Regions from separate parts of the Homo sapiens genome. Here region 2 is linked to region 1. A link means that fine-mapping ties the variant in region 1 to the expression of a gene that starts in the linked region. Tissue or cell type: skeletal muscle. Region 1 holds a variant in brackets; the other region holds the start of a gene. All regions are shown on one strand. Distances are between the middles of the regions.

Region 1 (8,341 bases):
AGGCGTACACCACCACACAAGGCTAATTTTTTTGTACTTTTTGTAGAGAGGGGGTTTCACCATGTTGGCGAAGTGATCCACCTACCTCGGCCTCCCAAAGTGCTGGGATTACGGGTGTGAGCCACCACACCTGGTCATCTATTTTCCTGTTTCTTTTTAACAACTGCCCAATTTGGGTCATTCTCTCAGTCGGACTCAGAGTGTGACCCACTGCTTAGCGCTACACTCGGTTTCCACATGTCTTTGTCTCCATGGCCGTCTGAAGACTGTGAAGCAGAGTTTCAGTAGGCTTTTTTCTTTTTTTGACAATTCCAACTGAAGCAGTTTTTGTTCCTCCATCCTCCTGAGATCATGTGATGAGTCAGTGGCTGCTCACAAGCATTTAAGACTCTTGAGAGAAGCAACATATAGGAAATGTTATCAGTAGGACTAATGACAGGATAATGCCAAGAGTTTGGAAAGTACCCTGAAACTAGGGTCCCCAAGAGCCGAGATTTAATCTCTTGATTTAACTAGATCAGTCGACGGTATTTCCCACGTCTGGTGGAGCACCTGGACCTGGCCTTTTATATTTCTAAAGATCCCAGATTTGGGCATCTATTCCTGATGTATTCATATAGAAATAGCATTTGTTTTTTCTTCTTCTGGTGTGGCAGTTTCAATCCGATGGGTGTTCCCGGCTTGCAGCTTGGATGTCTCTGGTGATATCATCAGGTTTCTGGTGAACTTTCTGTGTGGCCAACACAGCCTCAGGCACCAAGGTTGTCCAGGTATAAACTGTTGTAGCAATTTCTCTGAAGTCTCTATGAAGTCATCCAGCTCCCATTCACAGGGCTGTAAGGCTAAGAACAACCCCAGTTTAATGGGTTCAACAGTGTGATTTAAAAGTTATCAGACACCTGTGCTTGAGTCTTTTTTTTATGAATCTCTTGAAGTTTTGTGTCATAGCGATTTGCAAGTGCTTTCAGGAAAGCATCAGAGTAAATGATAACTGCTTGGTGGATGAAAAAAAAATTAAAATGGCCATGGTTAATGATCTCATGAGAGTTCATCTGAATTTTCATAAGAAAATTTAGTTATTCATGCGGTATATGACATTTTAAGATAACTGGAATTAAAGCTGATAACATTATACCAGGATATATCAGATTTCTAGGAATTTCATACAATTTCTGGAACACTTATATTAATAACATATAGCTATACAAACATAACATGATACTATATAACAAATAGCATCCTTTCTTATTTGATAACATAAAACATAAAAGTATAAAATACCAGAAGAAAATGTAGGACATTTTTATAATGTTGGATGAATAAAGGCCTTTCTTAGCATGGCATGAAATCCAGGTACCTAAAGGAAAATGTCTATGTCACATTTTAAAACTCTGAATAGAAAAAAAAAAAAACTACAAGGAAAGTAAAATGGCAAATGACTGACTGAAGAATATATTTGCAGTACATGTGACAGACCGTGGGTTAATATGCATCATATGTAAAGAGTGTCTACAAATTAACAAGAAAAGTATAGGCAGACAGAAAGAAAATGGACCACAGATCTGAAAAGGTGTGAGGTGTGGTAGGGCATGGTCAGGCTTGCTGCACTGAAACCTCAAGTGGGTGCGATGGTGCAGTAAGTAGTGGGATGTGGTGGGATGTACCTGTGATATAGAAGCATTCCCTTATATGTCACAAGAACGAATCTTTTTTTTTTTTTTGAGATGGAGTCTCGCTCTGTCACTCAGGTTGGAGTGCAGTGGCGTGATCTTGGCTCACTGCAACCTCCGCCTCCCGGGTTCAAGTGATTCTCCTGCTTTAGCCTCCCAAGTATTTGGGATTACAGGCACACACCACCACACTCGGCTAATGTTTTTATATTTTTGGTAGAGATAGGGTTTCACCATGTTGGTCAGGCTGGTCTTGAACTCTTGACCTCAAGTGATCCACCCCCCTCAGCCTCCCAAAGTGCTGGGATTACAGGTGTGAGCCACTGCACCCAGCCCAAGAATGAATCTTGAATGCCGATCAACCCTTGACCCCAAACTAAAATATTGTAAAACCACAAGTTCTGGCTTGCTCTGATCTCCTCTGAAATAATGGATTCTTCACTCCGTAGGGGCTGCTGAGAGCACTACACTTCTGGCAACCTCCTCAGGAAACCAAGGGAGATAGGCAAGCTACACTCCCTTCCTGGCATGCTTGATTTTGCCAAGTACAAGTGCAGGCAATGACATCAAATGTTTCACCTCTCAGACGGCAAAAATGCAAATGATTGAGCACCTCGAATTTTGATGACAGTGTAGTGCAAAAGGCCTGTCCACACGTTACTGATAGACATGAGAATCTGGCAATATCTATAGATATTTTGAATGCGAATCCTCTATCAGCAGAATGGCATGTGGATTAGCTTGAGAAACTAGAGACTAACACATCTATGTCCTTCTCAGCCCAATTAGACAGAATCGAGTCATTTTAACCTTAGGGACTGCACTAAGAGTGCCAGTTACAGGATTTATTGCTAATGATTTATAGGGCTCCAAATGACAGTGCTTACAAATCTATAGATTCTTGAAGAGAAAGGAGCACTCTACAGCTAACATTAAAGTCAGGATGTGTGCAGGGCATGGTGGTGCATACCTGTAATCTCAGCACTTTGGGGAGCTGAGGTGGGAGGATTGCTTGAGACCAGGAGTTCGAGACCAGCCTGAGCAACAGAATGAGATTCCCATTGCTACAAAAAATTTAAAAATTAACTAGGCCTGGGCTGAGTGCAGTGGCTCACGCCTGTAATCCCAGCACTTTAGGAGGCTGAGGCAGGTGGATCACCTGAGGTCAGGAGTTTGAGACCAGCCTGGCATACGTGATGAAACCCCATCTCTACTAAGAATACAAAAAATTAGCTGGGTGTGGTGGTGCACACCTGCAATCCCAGCTACTTGGGAGGCTGAGGCAGGAGAATTGCTTGAACCCAGGCGGCAGAGGTTTCCGTGAGCTGAGATCATGCCATTGCACTCCAGCCTGGGTGACAGAGGAAGACTCTGTCTCAAGAAAAACAAAACAAAACAAAACAAACAAACAAACAAAAACTAGGTGTGGTGGCACACCCCTGTAGTCCTAGCTACCCAGGAGGCTGAGGTGGGAGGACGCTTAAACCTAAGAGTTGGAGGCGTCAATGAGATATGATCATGCCACTGGACTCCACTGTGCAACAGAGACCAAAGAAAAAAAAAAGAAGAAGATGTGCATCACAGCTATGGCCAGCTCACAGCAAGGGGTCTGGCAGGGCCGGTTTGGGTTTCTATTGTCCTCTCTACTGTATGGTCATGGCAAAATGCACTTCCTCTTTCAGATACAGAACCCTTGGCAGGTGCACAGAGCACCACAGAACTAAGGGGCCCAAAAGAGAGTCTCGGCTGGGGTTTTTTATGTTTCACAGGTCACATACACAAATTCCTGTTACATAACTAGCTTCTGCAGCACAGCTCTCTGGGGGTCTCACCAGGAGAAAATCAGTCTTACTGTTATCAATAAACAATGCTGACAAGTTGGTACAAACCACGCCAAACTCCTCCTTGCCCCCCTGCCTACAAAGCGACACTATTCACCGGCTTTCCTGCCTTGGGCAACATCAGTGCCAGGCAGCAAGTTTAGTACAACCGCTCAGTTTCATTCTAGACATGCTGCAATTCACCCTCAGAGCACAGGAACTAAACAAGGAAGAGGTGTGTTTATTGGGTTTTTGGGCAAAAAAGGAAAGATAAATGCAACTGATTTGTCCCTTCCCACGGTTCCGCATCCCTCATTCCAAATGCAGTACTCACGTTCCGGGCCCGCCCCCTCAGGATGGAGCTCTCAGGGTCATGAATCGGCATTGGACCTCCATGTTCGGTGGTGTGGCTTGTTTTTACAGGT[T/G]ACTTAATAGGATCCAGGTTGGGTTACGAGCAACCTATAAATAAACCAGATGCGCTCCACAGAGCCCCAGACCCAGGCCAGCTCTTCTGCTGATCATATGCTACCTATCACACGCGCACACTCTGTTTATATCTACCAGACACAGGCCTGCCAAGGCTGTTCCATCAGGACAGAGGAATGGTGGATATCTTTTATACTTTGCCCATCATAATTTTCTTCCTGGAAGTGTGGGTGCACCTCCTTTGCAGAGGTGGGTGCCTGACTCAGCCGGCCTATCCCATGAGTGGATTGCAGAGGTTCACAAACCATTTGGACCTAGCCACTTGGTAATTGAACTGTTCAGTATTTCTGTGACCTAGGGAAGCTGTGAAAAAAATTGCTGAAACACTAAGGCTCTCAGACACTAACTGCAGAACCTCTGCCATGCTGGTGCTTTGGGCAGAGCCATTCCCAGGACTTCTGTGGGAGAAATAGGTAGGAAAGATGGACGCCCTTCCCTCTGGGGCTGCTAGTTAAAGGACAAGGCAAATCTAGATCTCTGATGGTCATCTTTTCCATGTTGTACAAAGGTCATTCCTGGGAAAGAAACCCACGTGGAGGAAAGCAGACCTGAGAGAGACAGGAGTCCTAGGCCAGGCACGGTGGCTCATGACTGTGATCCTAGCACTTTGGGAGGCCAAGGTGGGGGCGGATCGCTTGAGGTCAGGAGTTCAAGGCCTGTCTGGCCAATATAGTGAAACCCCATCTCTACTAAAAGTACAAAATTAGTGGGGTGTGGTGGCACTTGCCTGTAATCCCAGCTACTTGGGAGGCTGAGGCAGGAATCACTTGAACCTGGGAGGTGGAGGTTGCAATGAGCTGAGACTGAACCATTGCACTCCAGCCTGGGCAACAGAGTGAGACTCTGTCTCAAAAAAAAAAAAAAGTCCTAGTATATAGTTGAGCACCTAGAACCAACCTTACCTGAAGCAGGGACATTGCTGGACTTTTCATTTTATGACCTAATTCATTCCTGAACCAGTCAGCATTCCTAGCTGCTAACAAAGTGAACCCAAACTAGCTTAATCAGAAAAGCAATGTATTACCAAATATTAGGTATCTCAGAAGCTCTCTAGGAGAGAAGGAAAAATGGCCTATATACAATCTGTGTCCAGAAGAAACACCCTCAGGAACAGCACCCAAAATCACACTGAAAAGTGGTTTAGTGGGAAGCACTGGTAGGCACAGACAGCTCTGACTTCAGCACCATTGTCACCAACGTGACCAATGCTGGATACACGACTACAGCCTCTTATGCTGTTGGCTCTGGAAACAGGATGTAACTGCTGCCATTATCCCCAGAATAGATTCTGGAGGGAGCTCATGATTTGAAGTCTAATATGGGTACATCTGTTTGGCTGCATCTCTGCATCAAGAGAGGCTGGGAATGAGTATCTGATTTCTGTAGTCAGAGGCTATTGCCACATCCCACCAAGAGCTATAGAGCAGGGAGCGCCCCCAAATGGAGGAAAAGTGTTTACTGGGCAAAAAGAATCACCAAAGTCTACAAAGCCTTTGACTACCCAACATCAGCAAGTACACACACACACACACACACACACACACACACTTAAATAAACAAAACAAAGTAACAGAAAATAATATTTATAAACCCCTTTTAGCCCACATACACACAAAAATACTCTTTTCAAAAGGGGATCAGGACACATCAGTTACTGCATCCAGCTCCAAGTCAGCTTCCAATTCCATCCCAGGGCAGATCACCTATGTCTTCATTCCAGCTTCTTGGTGGCTGGGAAAGTGAGTTTACCGATCAAGTGCTGGGTGGCTGTGATGTTTTACAAATGTCCACCAGAGTCCATGTCAGTTTCTCTCCTCCTCTCCTTCTCTCTCCCTGTCATTCCTTCTCTCCTGTCTCTCATTCTTTCTCTCTCTTTCTCTCTGTCATTCCTTCTCTCCGTCTCTCTGTCTCTCATTCCTTCTCTCTCTCATTCCTTTTCTCCTCTTTCTCGTTCCTTCTCTCTCTTTCTGTCATTCCTTCTCTCCTTCTCTCTCATTTCTTCTCTCCTTCTCTCTCTCATTCATTCTCTTTCTCTCATTCCTTCTCTCCTTCTCACTCTCATTCCTTATCTACTTCTCTCTCCCTCAATCTTTCTGTCATTCTCTCTCTCATTCCTTCTCTACTTCTCTCTCCCTCAATCTTTCTGTCCTTCTCTCTCTCATTCCTTCTCTCTTTCTCTCTCTCATTCCTTCTCTCTTTCTCTCTGTCATTCCTTCTCTCCTTCTCTCTCTCTCATTCCTTCTCTTTCTCTCATTCCTTCTCTCCCATTCCTTCTCTCCTTCTCTTTCTCTCATTCCTTCTCTCTCTCACTCCTTCTCTCCTGTCTCTCTCATTCCTTCTGTCCTTCTCTCTCTCTCTCATCCTGTCTCTCTCTCTCATTCTTTCTCTCCTTCTCTCTCTCATCACTTCTCTCTCTCTCTCATTCCTTCTCTCTCTCTCGCTCTCTCTCATCCCTTCTCCAATCTGCATATAAGGGGACCCATACAGTTCAAACCCATGTTGTTCAAGGCTCAACTGTAATTGTACATGTAGAAAATCTAAAATAATCTACGGATAAGCCATTAGATTATAATAAATTTAGTGGGCTCCCTGGATACAAGGTCAGTATACAGAAATGCATTGTATTTCTTCATACTAAGAGACAAACAATAATAAAATGAAATAAATAATTTATGATATTAGAACACATCAAATACCTAAGAATATATCCAGGAAATAATTTTCATGACACTGAAACTACAAAGCATTGTTAAAATAAGTGAAAGACCTAAATAATTGGAGAGATACTATGAATTGAAAAATTCAGTTTTGTCAAGAATTCAATTATTTTCAAATTGATCTATAGATTCAATAAAACACTAGCAGATATTTTTATTGAAATTGACAAGTTGATTTGATTCTAAAATTTATATGGAAATAAAAACGACCTAGAGTAACAAAAGCAATCTTGATAAAGAACAAGTTGGAAAATTTACATCACAAGATCTAAAAGATTCATTGTAAATCCACAGTAATTAAGAGTATGGTATTGCACAAGGCCAGACAAATAGACCAATGGAACAAAACAGAGAATCCAGAAACAAACTGTATAAGTTCTGTTGGTCTATTTGTTTAACCTTGTGTTTGTACCACCACCTCATTTACAACAAAGGCACCCTGCAATGCAGTAGGAGAAGGAAGGTCTTTGCCACAAATGGTGATGATCAATTAGATATTCATATGGGAAAAAAGTGAAATTTTTTTTTGAGATAAGTTCTCACTCTGTCTCCCAGGCTGGAGTGCAGTGGCATAATATTGGCTCACTGTAACCTCCACCTCCCAGGTTCAAGTGATTCTCATGCCTCAGCCACCTGAGTAGCTCGGATTACAGACACGCACCACCATGACTGGCTAATTTTTGTATTTTTAATAGAGATGGAATTTCACCATGTTGGCCAGGCTGGTCTTGAACTCCTGGCCTCATGTTATCCACCCACCTCAGCCTCCCAAACTGTTGGGATTACAGGCATGAGCCACTGTGCCCAGCCAAAGAAAGTGAATCTTGATTCCCTCCTCACATCACACATAAAAATCAATTGCTGATTATGACAGATTTAAAGCTTAAAATAAAACAATAAAACTTACAGAAAAAATCAGAGGAGGATATGTTCACGATCTAGGGATATGCAAATATTCTACACAACATTAAAAGAACTGATAGATAGAAGAAAACATTTATAACTTGGACTTCACTAAGAAATTTTGTACATTAAAATATACCAGTAAGAGTACACCCGTGTTTATAGCAACACTATTTACAATAGCTAAAAGGAGGAAGCAACCCAAGTGTAAATGTGATAGAGGCAGGAGATGGCCAAATGCTGAGGCAGATAGGAAAGGGTCCCTGGAGAAACTCCGACCCACCCCAGGTTACACCAGATGAAATCACCAGATGTAATCACCAGACACTTTATGCAGATAAGGGAACTTGCACAGGGAGCTTGCCTGGGCATACCCACAGCAGACTGGAGGCCCACATGCCCTGGGGGAATGGGGTGGAGCTACCAGAAATTCACACTTTATGCAGGGGAGGATCCTGACCTCTTCAGCTTGTGTCTAGTGGCTCCGGTATTCAATTTGTGAAATGGAAATCTGCTTGCAGAGCCCCTCTCTTTGCTGAGAGCTTTCCTTTCACTGAGTAAATTCTGCCCACCTCACCCTTCAATGTGTCTGCATGCCTAATTTTTCTTGGTCGTGAGACAAAAACCTGGATTTAGCTGAACTAAGGAGCAAAAACCCTGCATCAAATGGATGAATAGATAAACAAACTGTGGTACAACAAAGATTGGTGCAAAAGTAATTGCAGTTTTCGTTTAATTTTTAACT
Region 2 (8,341 bases), 33 kb before region 1:
GCAGTGAGCCGAGATCGCGCCACTGCACTCCAGCCTGGGCGACAGAGGGAGACTCCATTTCCTGAAGCCTCTAGTCTGCCTCAACCACTGGCTGATTTTCCCCAAGATAGGAAAAATCATCCCTTTCCCTTTACCAAAGGAGGAGAGGTTAACATTGTACAAGCACATAGGAAGGGCCCCTGTTAACTCCAGTCCATGCAGCATGCATTGGCCAGTAGCCAAAGTCAAGGACACGGATAAGAAAAATGGCTGTGCCTGTGCCTGAAAAGTCAATGCCTTTTTTGGGGAGCTTTCTCAGACTTAACGGGAGCACTGGGGGGAAATCTTGACAGTGGAGGTGGGAGAGAGAACAGTAGAGGGAGGCTGGGCCAAGGACACAGAGAAGTCAATAACTGTACCTGTGTCTGAAAGCGCAGGCAACCCATTTGCATGACGCATGAAGATTTTATCTTTAGGCATTTGGTTGCTATAAATTGCGGGAGCATTGCAACCCACTTTAGAGAACCTTATGGACACTTTGGCAAGAGTTAAGTGCAACCTCTGTTAGGCAGCAGAGTTTGTTGTGAGTCTATTGCTGCAGCTGAGCTCTGTGGGAGAGTCTGAATGCCCAGGCCAAGGCAACGGAAAGGGAAGTCCCAGGAGCTTGGATCTCAAGGCAAGACTCAGACATTATCATGGGTTGGGAAAGGGTGAAGGCAGACCCAGGAAGGAATATTCCTGGATTGGGAGAAAACCAGCAAATTCTGCTTCTAGGATTCCATTGCCCTCTAAGCCATGTGTCTGGGCATCTATCAGTATACCAATGTACTTACCATTACCAAAGGATTTTTTTTTTTTAAATGAAGCCCTGCTCTGTCGCCCAGGCTAGAGTGCAGTAGTGGTGCAATCTTGGCTCACTGCAACCTCCGCCTCCCGGGTTCAAGCAATTCTCCTGCCTCAGCCTCCCATGTAGCTGGGATTACAGGCATGCTCCACCACACCTAGCTAATTTCTGTATTTTTAGTGGAAATGACGTTTCACCATGTTGGCCAATCTGTCCTTGAACTCCTGACCTCAAGCGATCCGCCCACCTTGGCCTCCCAAAGTGCTAGGATTTCAAGCGTGAGCCACCGTGCCTGCCCTTACCAAAGGTTTTACATTTTTTTTACTAAGATATTTTTTATGCGGATGTGTACATTTTATCTTTTTTGCATATCTCCAATTGCACATGAGACAACATGAGCAACACTTCAGCCAACTTGGTTGGAACCCATTTGTATGTTTCATCCTATGAAGGTGGCTACAGATCTGGATATTAACAATCAGATTTTATTCCTTCATTCAAATACTTATTGACAGCTGGGCACGGTGGCTCACACCTCTAATCCCAGCACATTGGGAGGCCGAGGCGGGTGGAGCATTTGAGATCAGGAGTTCAAGACCAGCCTGGCCAACATGGGGAAACTCCATCTCTACAAAAAATATAAAAATTAGCCGGGCGTGGTGGCGGGCGCCTGTAATCCCAGCTACTCGTGAGGCTGAGGCAGGAGAATCACTTGAACCTGGGAGGCAGAGGTTGCAGTGAGCCGAGATCGTGCCACTGCACTCCAACCTGGGCAACAGAGAAGAGACTCTGTCTCAAAACAAAACAAAACCCAAATACTCATTGAGTGCTGGGTCTGTGACAGACACTGTTTTGGATGCTGGGATTGTGGCCATAAGCATAACAGCCTGTTCTCTGCCCTCACGGAACTCAGGTTCTGGGGACTTCCCCCAGACCTCACCTCCGTAGATTACCTTTCGAAGCCACATTTCTTTACAACCTTCTCCCAAGCCTGGAGATGGACAAGGATCAGGGACATTTCTTCTTGAGTCATCTCAGCCCGAAAAGACATAACAGTGCTCCGGGAAAGTTGGCTGTCTAATTACAATATTGGAGAATTAGAAAAAAAAAAGAATACAACAAAAATCTTAATGTCTCAGAAATGTCACATGATTTTTGTCTAATGATTTTAAACAAACAAACCATGGGAATGCCCAAGGTTGACTAGGATGCAATAAAACTGGAAATCGCTTAGGCTTCTAGTGGCAAAGTAGATTGGTAAAGCACTTTTGAAATGTTGACGTTATACGTTAATGATATGGGAGCAGGCAGGGAAGTGCTGCTTACATAAAGGCATGGTCCCCGGTGAGGGTTCCACCCTCGGGCCTGGGCCCATGGATCTAAGTGAGGACAAGCATTTCTGCTTTCGCTCCCAAATGCTGCATTTTCTAAGACCACTCTGGCCCGCCATATCCCCACCTAACAGGCAGACACACACAAGTAGCTGGACATCGAGAGGAACACACAGGAAGAAGAATACACCGGCGGATGCTGACAGGTCATCCACGGCTGAATGACATGGAATTTAGCCAAAGGCAGTTGGAGGAGAACCGCTGAGTGGCCCAAATCCAGGGGAAGACCACCTTCCCACTCCATCCCCTTTCTGGCTCCCCATCCATCTGCTGAGAACTACACTCGATAAAACCTTGCACTCACTCTCCAAGCCCACGTGTGATCCAATTTTTCTGGCATACTAGGGTTAGAACCCTGGAGTACAGAAATTAGACCCTCTGCTTTGTCCTTCCGATAAGCTCACTGGGGCTCGGGAGCTGCAAACACTCAACCCTAGATGGGGCTGCTGTGGGGTCGGAGCCCACGCTCCCCAAGACCTGCCGGTCCGCATGCTCCCCCTAGGGGTTTGAGCCGCAGGGCACCGAAGAAGTGAGCCACACCCCGTTTTATACTGTGCAAGGGGGATAAGGGAACTTTTCCCATTTCGTTAAGTCACAAAAGTCTTCTGAGAATCATCCAACAACACAATGATAGGCACCAAGACAATCGGGGCCATGTTAATTGATAACATTTTTAACTTGGGAGCAAGTGAACGCTCATTCTGTCCAGTGCCTATCATCTATAGCCCTGAGAGAGGCACAGTCCAGTCCCTGCTGAATGACACCTGCCTGATGACAAGGCTCGTGGGCGGGATGGTGGTTGGTTTTACCCAGGCAGGCAACACAGCAGAGTCCACCTTGTTCAGACACTCTCTCTCACATTGCAGCTTCTTTTGTTGCTCAAAAATCACTTTAAATGTATTTTCAATATAATTTGACAAAAAGATAGTCAAATTTGACAAAAAATATAATTTGACAAAAATCACCCCTAGTTCTCCTGCAACATAACTATTGATTTCATTCTCTACTTCCCGTTATTTTTCAAATCCGTATTATTTTTCGCATGGCTTTTATACTTATAATGGTGTGTCCTGTTTTTATTTATTATTATTATTTATTATTATTATTATTTTTGAGACGGTCTCACTGTCACCCAGGCTGGAATGCAGTGGTGCGATCTCGGCTCACTGCAACCTGCGCCTCCTGGGTTCAAGTGATTCTCCTGTCTCAGCCTCCCGAGTTGTTGCAATTATAGGTGCGCACCACCATGCCTGGATAAGTTTTCTATTTGTAGTAGAGATGGGGGTTTCACCATGTTGGCCAGGCTGGTCTCAAACTCCCAACCTCAGGTGATACATCTGCCTTGGCCTCCCAAAGTGCTGGGATTACAGGCATGAGCCGCTGTGCCTGGCCACGTGCCCTGTTTTTAAAATGTAATGTTATACAAGTATTTTCCATCTTGCTATACAGTTGTTATAACTATTATTTTTGATGACTCTATGCTATTTCCTTAAGAGAAGATGTATTGTCATGTTTATAGAAACACTCCCTTATCATGGCACTTTGGCGTCTTTTTTTTTTTTTTTTTTTTTTTTGAGACGGGGTCTCTGTCTGTTGTCCAGGCTGCAGTGCAATGGCGCGATCTCCCAGTTCAAGCAATTCTCCTGCCTCACCCTCCCGAGTAACGGGACTACAGGTGTGCACTACCAGCCTGGCTAATTTTTTGTATTTTTAATAGAGACAGGGTTTCACCATGTTGGCCAGGCTGGTCTTGAACTCCTGGCCTCAAGTGATCTGCCCATGTTGGCCTCCCAAAGTGTTGGGATTACAGGCATGAGCCACTGCGCCCAACCGTGCTTTGGGGTCATAACAGTTTTGATATCCAGATGAGTTCTTTGATAATGTCGCCACCTTGTCCTGCCTGCTGCCTCTACTTTAACCAGAAATGGAACCAGTGATTGACCCCTTCCCCGCTGCCACACTGCTTCAAGCAGGGGCTTAAAGAGCTGCTTATGTTTTTAGTTAAACTTTACATTTTTAGTTAAACTTTACAAAGGAAGTTATTTGATGTAGTATTTTCAAACCTGAGCAATTGAGAGGGTCTCATGATATCTCCCTCATTAAAACCAAGGATCTGCTATATCTCCACCCAGCAATAGCATATGGTGGGTATAAAAAATAGTGTAACGTATTTTTTCTATTTCTGGGACAATTTGTACAACGTGAGAATTGCTTGTTTTCTGAAAGCTTAAAAGAACTTACCAGGTAACACCTTGGAACCGGGAACTTGCAAATTTCCTTGTTTGCCACATGGCATGCTTTAGATTTTTTAAAATTTAAGCTTATAATATGATTAATAAATATGACTCCCTTCTCCATGCCTGAAACCTGTCTCTCCCAGTCCTCACCTATTTTTTTTTCTTTTCTTTTCTTTCTTTTTTTTTTTTTTTGCGATGGAGCTTCTCTCTGCTGCCCAGGCTGGAGTGCAGTGGTGCAGTCTCAGTCACTGCAACCTCCACTTCCCAGGTTCAACTGACTCTTCTGCCTCAGCCTTCTGAGTAGCTGGGATTACAGGTGCCTGCCACCATGCCTGGCTAATTTTTGTATTTTTAGTAGAGACAGGGTTTCACCATGATGGCCAGGCTGGTCTCAAACTCCTGACCTCAGGTGATCCGCCCGCCTTGGCCTCTCAAAATGCTGGGATTACAGGCGTGAGCCACTGCGCTCAGCTGCTATGGCTTTTGGAAGGATGATTTAGGGTATCTTTCTTTTTTTTTTTTCTTTCATTTGGAGATGGTCTCATTTTGGCACCTGGGCTGGAGTGCAGTGACACAATCTCGGCTCACTGCAGTAACCTCCCGGGCTCAAGTGATCCTCCTGTCTTAGCCCCCCAAGTGGCGGGGACTACAGGTGTGCACCACCACACCCAGCTAATATATATATATATATATATTTTTTTTTTTTTTGTAGAGATGGAGATTCACCATGTTGCCCAGGCTAATCTCTAACTCCTGAGCTCAAACAATCCACCCTCCTTGGCCTCCCAAAGTGCTAGGATTACAGGTGTGAGCCACTGCACCTGGCCTTCTTGGGATGTCTCTTAACATGAGAAGTACATGTGCCTGACACTCAGCATCCCACCTCTAGAAATACACCCACCACGGACACAACACAACGGCACAACACAACACAACAGACAAACGTGTATGGATGTTCATCCAGTTATTTGAAGTTGTATAAAGAAATGGAAACAATTTGAAAAATCCATGCCGGGGACTGTTTACATGAAAATAGAGCAATACAAAATAAAGGTTTATGGATGTGAAAAGGAACGAGGCAAATCTATGTACAACTGACCTAGAAAGAGGTCCAGGATATATTAAGTAAAAGAAAAGAGGTTGAAGAATATGTTCTTTATATTCTTTTCTTATTTTTTTTAAGTACTATATATGTGATGTAGGAGTAGGGGAATATTCTCGAAGGAGATACACCAAATGTGAACAGGCTTAGCTCAGGGAGGGAGATTTAGGGCTAGGGTGACAAAATACTTTTGCACTTTTCACTCATCTATATTATTGAGCTTTGTTACCAAAGTAACTTGTTAGTTTTATAATAAAAGCCAATAGAAGCCAGGCACGGTGGCTCACGCCTGTAATCCCAGCACTTTGGGAAGCTGAGGCAGGTGGATCACCTGAGATCAGGAGTTCGAGACCAGCCTGGCCAACAAGTCTCTACTAAAAATACAAAAATTAGCCAGGCGTGGTGGTGGGCACCTGTAATCCCAGCTACTCAGGAGGCTGAGGCAGGAGAATCTCTTGAACCCGGGAGGCGGAGGTTGCAGTGAGCTGAGATTGCACCACTGCACTTCAGCCTGGGTGACAGAGCGAGACTCTGTCTCAACAACAACAAAAAGCCAATAGAATAAAAAGATTTTAGTAATGAGATTTATTATTCATTATTTTATCATAAAATCTCCCACTTGTACAGTAATGCATTTGGTGCAGGGAATGCTGCCAAGTACATGGTAAGACAAAATCTGACAAATTAATACTGTTAAATGTTAATATTGTTTTCTTTTTTTGTTGGTTCTATGTAAGTTTTTCTAACTTGTTATTTTGGCCTTTTGTGTCCTATTTATTTCAGGTTATCTCTTGGATGTAGAAAATTACTCAGATCTGATTTTGACCCAATTTGATACTTTTCTTAATGTTATTCATATTCATATTAATTATTTTTTGTTATAATTATTCAACTTTGATTTGTCCCATTATTTTAGGCATTCTGCTTTTTATTTCTTTGCTCTCTTCCTATGCTCTACATAGATAGGTACAGTGCAGAGGTTTCAGCTGATGCAGTGAGTGGTTTATTGTGGCAGCCCGGAGCTTCACCTTGAAGGCAGAGATGTGTGTTATCTGCGCTTTCCTGCCTACTCTGTGTATACCCAGTAAATGACAGATACAGAACAACACTTAGAATAAGACCTCATCATTCATGACACTAAGTTTTGTTTTTTTATGTATGTATGTATATATTTATTTAATTTTTGATACACAGTCTTGCTCTGTGGCTCAGGCTGGAGTGCAGTGGCACGATCTCGGCTTTGCAACCTCTGCCTCCCTTGTTCAAGCGATTCTCCTGCCTCAGTCTCCCGAGTAGCTGGGATTATAGGTGTGCACCACCACGCCCAGCTAATTTTTGCATTCTTAGTAGAGACGGGGTTTCACCATGTTGACCAGGCTGTCAACCTCCTGGGCCTCAGGTGATCCATCTGGCCACCTCAGCCTCTCAAAGTGCTGGGATTAAAGTCCTGAGCCACTACGCCCAGCTGACACTAAGTTTTTTATGTTTAAAATCTTGCTCAGCTCTCCCTGCTGTCCTGGGCTAGAATAGATCTTGGGAGATGACTCTATTAGACTTTATTTTGGGGAGGAGGCAAGAAGGGAGTGAGCAGGGCTGAGACCCAGCAAAGGCAGAGGATGATCATATAGCGGGAGTGGGAGAACCACTGGACAGGTTCTGGGTCTGTCCATGAAATGGGCTCATAGTTCCCTTCCAGTTAAATTCATCTCCTATGCAACTTTTGTGCTTTATGCATAGGATGAGAGGTCAAACAACATCATCTTGTGTTTGATTATGTACACAGATGTTTCACGAATCATCATATTTCATAATCGATCAATTTCTGATAATTTAAAAATGCATCTTCCATGAGAAAGCTCAGAATATCACACTGAGAGCGAGAAAGAACTACCCTTCTCCCCCTGCTTTGACTCACGTCTCCCAAACAGGGCGTTAGACTCTTCTGAGTGGTTTCCATTACAAGACACCCAGGAGGCCACCTTCAGTGGAGGCTGTGGCCACTGTGCTCAGGGATCACACACAGATGCAAGGAGCTTGCTCCTCTCTCCTGCCTCCTCTCTCAACACGGAAGAAGGGATCCACTGGCCCCAGTTCATTTATCTTGCTTTCTCAACTCTTCTCAGTCGGACACCCTGCATTCATTGCTGGAGGACACAGCGATCCTGAACTTGGAGTCTGGTTTTAGAGGCAGGGAGAGGCTCACGTAGACCTAAGCCAGGTAGTTCAGTCCATTCTGCCAGAGAGCTCTGCTCTGGAGAGTCAGCCCCAAGCCAGAAGGGTAAAACGAGGCATTGTCCTTTTCTGCTACTACTGTTTGCCATTGTCCCTCATGCTAATATCTCCCTCGAGGGCCACATAGTGAGAAGGCATGGCTGGGCCAAAAACAAATCTAGGCACTTCTGGAATTCTCAACCACACAACCAGATAACAGTGCCTGGACTGACCACAAAACTGGACCCATTAAGAGTTGCAGGGCCCAGAGGGATAACGCAGATTTTTATTTATTTTTATTTTTTTGAGACAGAATCTTGCTCTGTCATCCAGGCTGGAATGCAGTGGCATGGTCTCAGCTCACTGCAACCTCCGCCGCCCAGGTTCAAGCGATTCTCCTGCCTTAGCCTTCCAAGTAGCTGGGATTACAGGTGCGCACCACCACGCCTGGCTAATTTTTGTGTTTTTAGTAGAGACGGGGTTTCACCATGTTGGCCAAGCTGGTCTTAAACTCCTGACCTCAAGTGATCCACCTGCCTTGACCTCCCAAAGTGCTGGGATTACAGGCTTGAGCCAC

Alleles and levels. Alleles are on the strand shown, and positions count from the first base shown. SD is a standard deviation of normalised expression in the study named.
In carriers of allele G in region 1, the expression in skeletal muscle of the gene that starts at base 4,510 in region 2 tends to be lower than with T alone (moderate effect, 0.59 SD a copy in GTEx).

Evidence for each region. PIP is the estimated chance that this variant, and not a neighbour inherited with it, causes the effect.
Region 2: APOL5 starts here. The variant in region 1 is fine-mapped to the expression of APOL5 in skeletal muscle (GTEx, PIP above 0.99).

The regions. Positions count from the first base shown.
Region 1 is chr22:35,681,498-35,689,838 of GRCh38, reverse strand. No RefSeq gene overlaps it. Among named protein-coding and RNA genes, the nearest start is that of APOL5, 32 kb to the left of the region's middle. The variant T/G (reference allele first, on the strand shown) is at 3,916.
Region 2 is chr22:35,714,041-35,722,381 of GRCh38, reverse strand. APOL5 (apolipoprotein L5) reads right to left here and starts at 4,510. Exons shown (of 5, transcript NM_030642.1): 1 at 4,456-4,510; 2 at 1,728-1,814. The coding sequence starts at 4,510.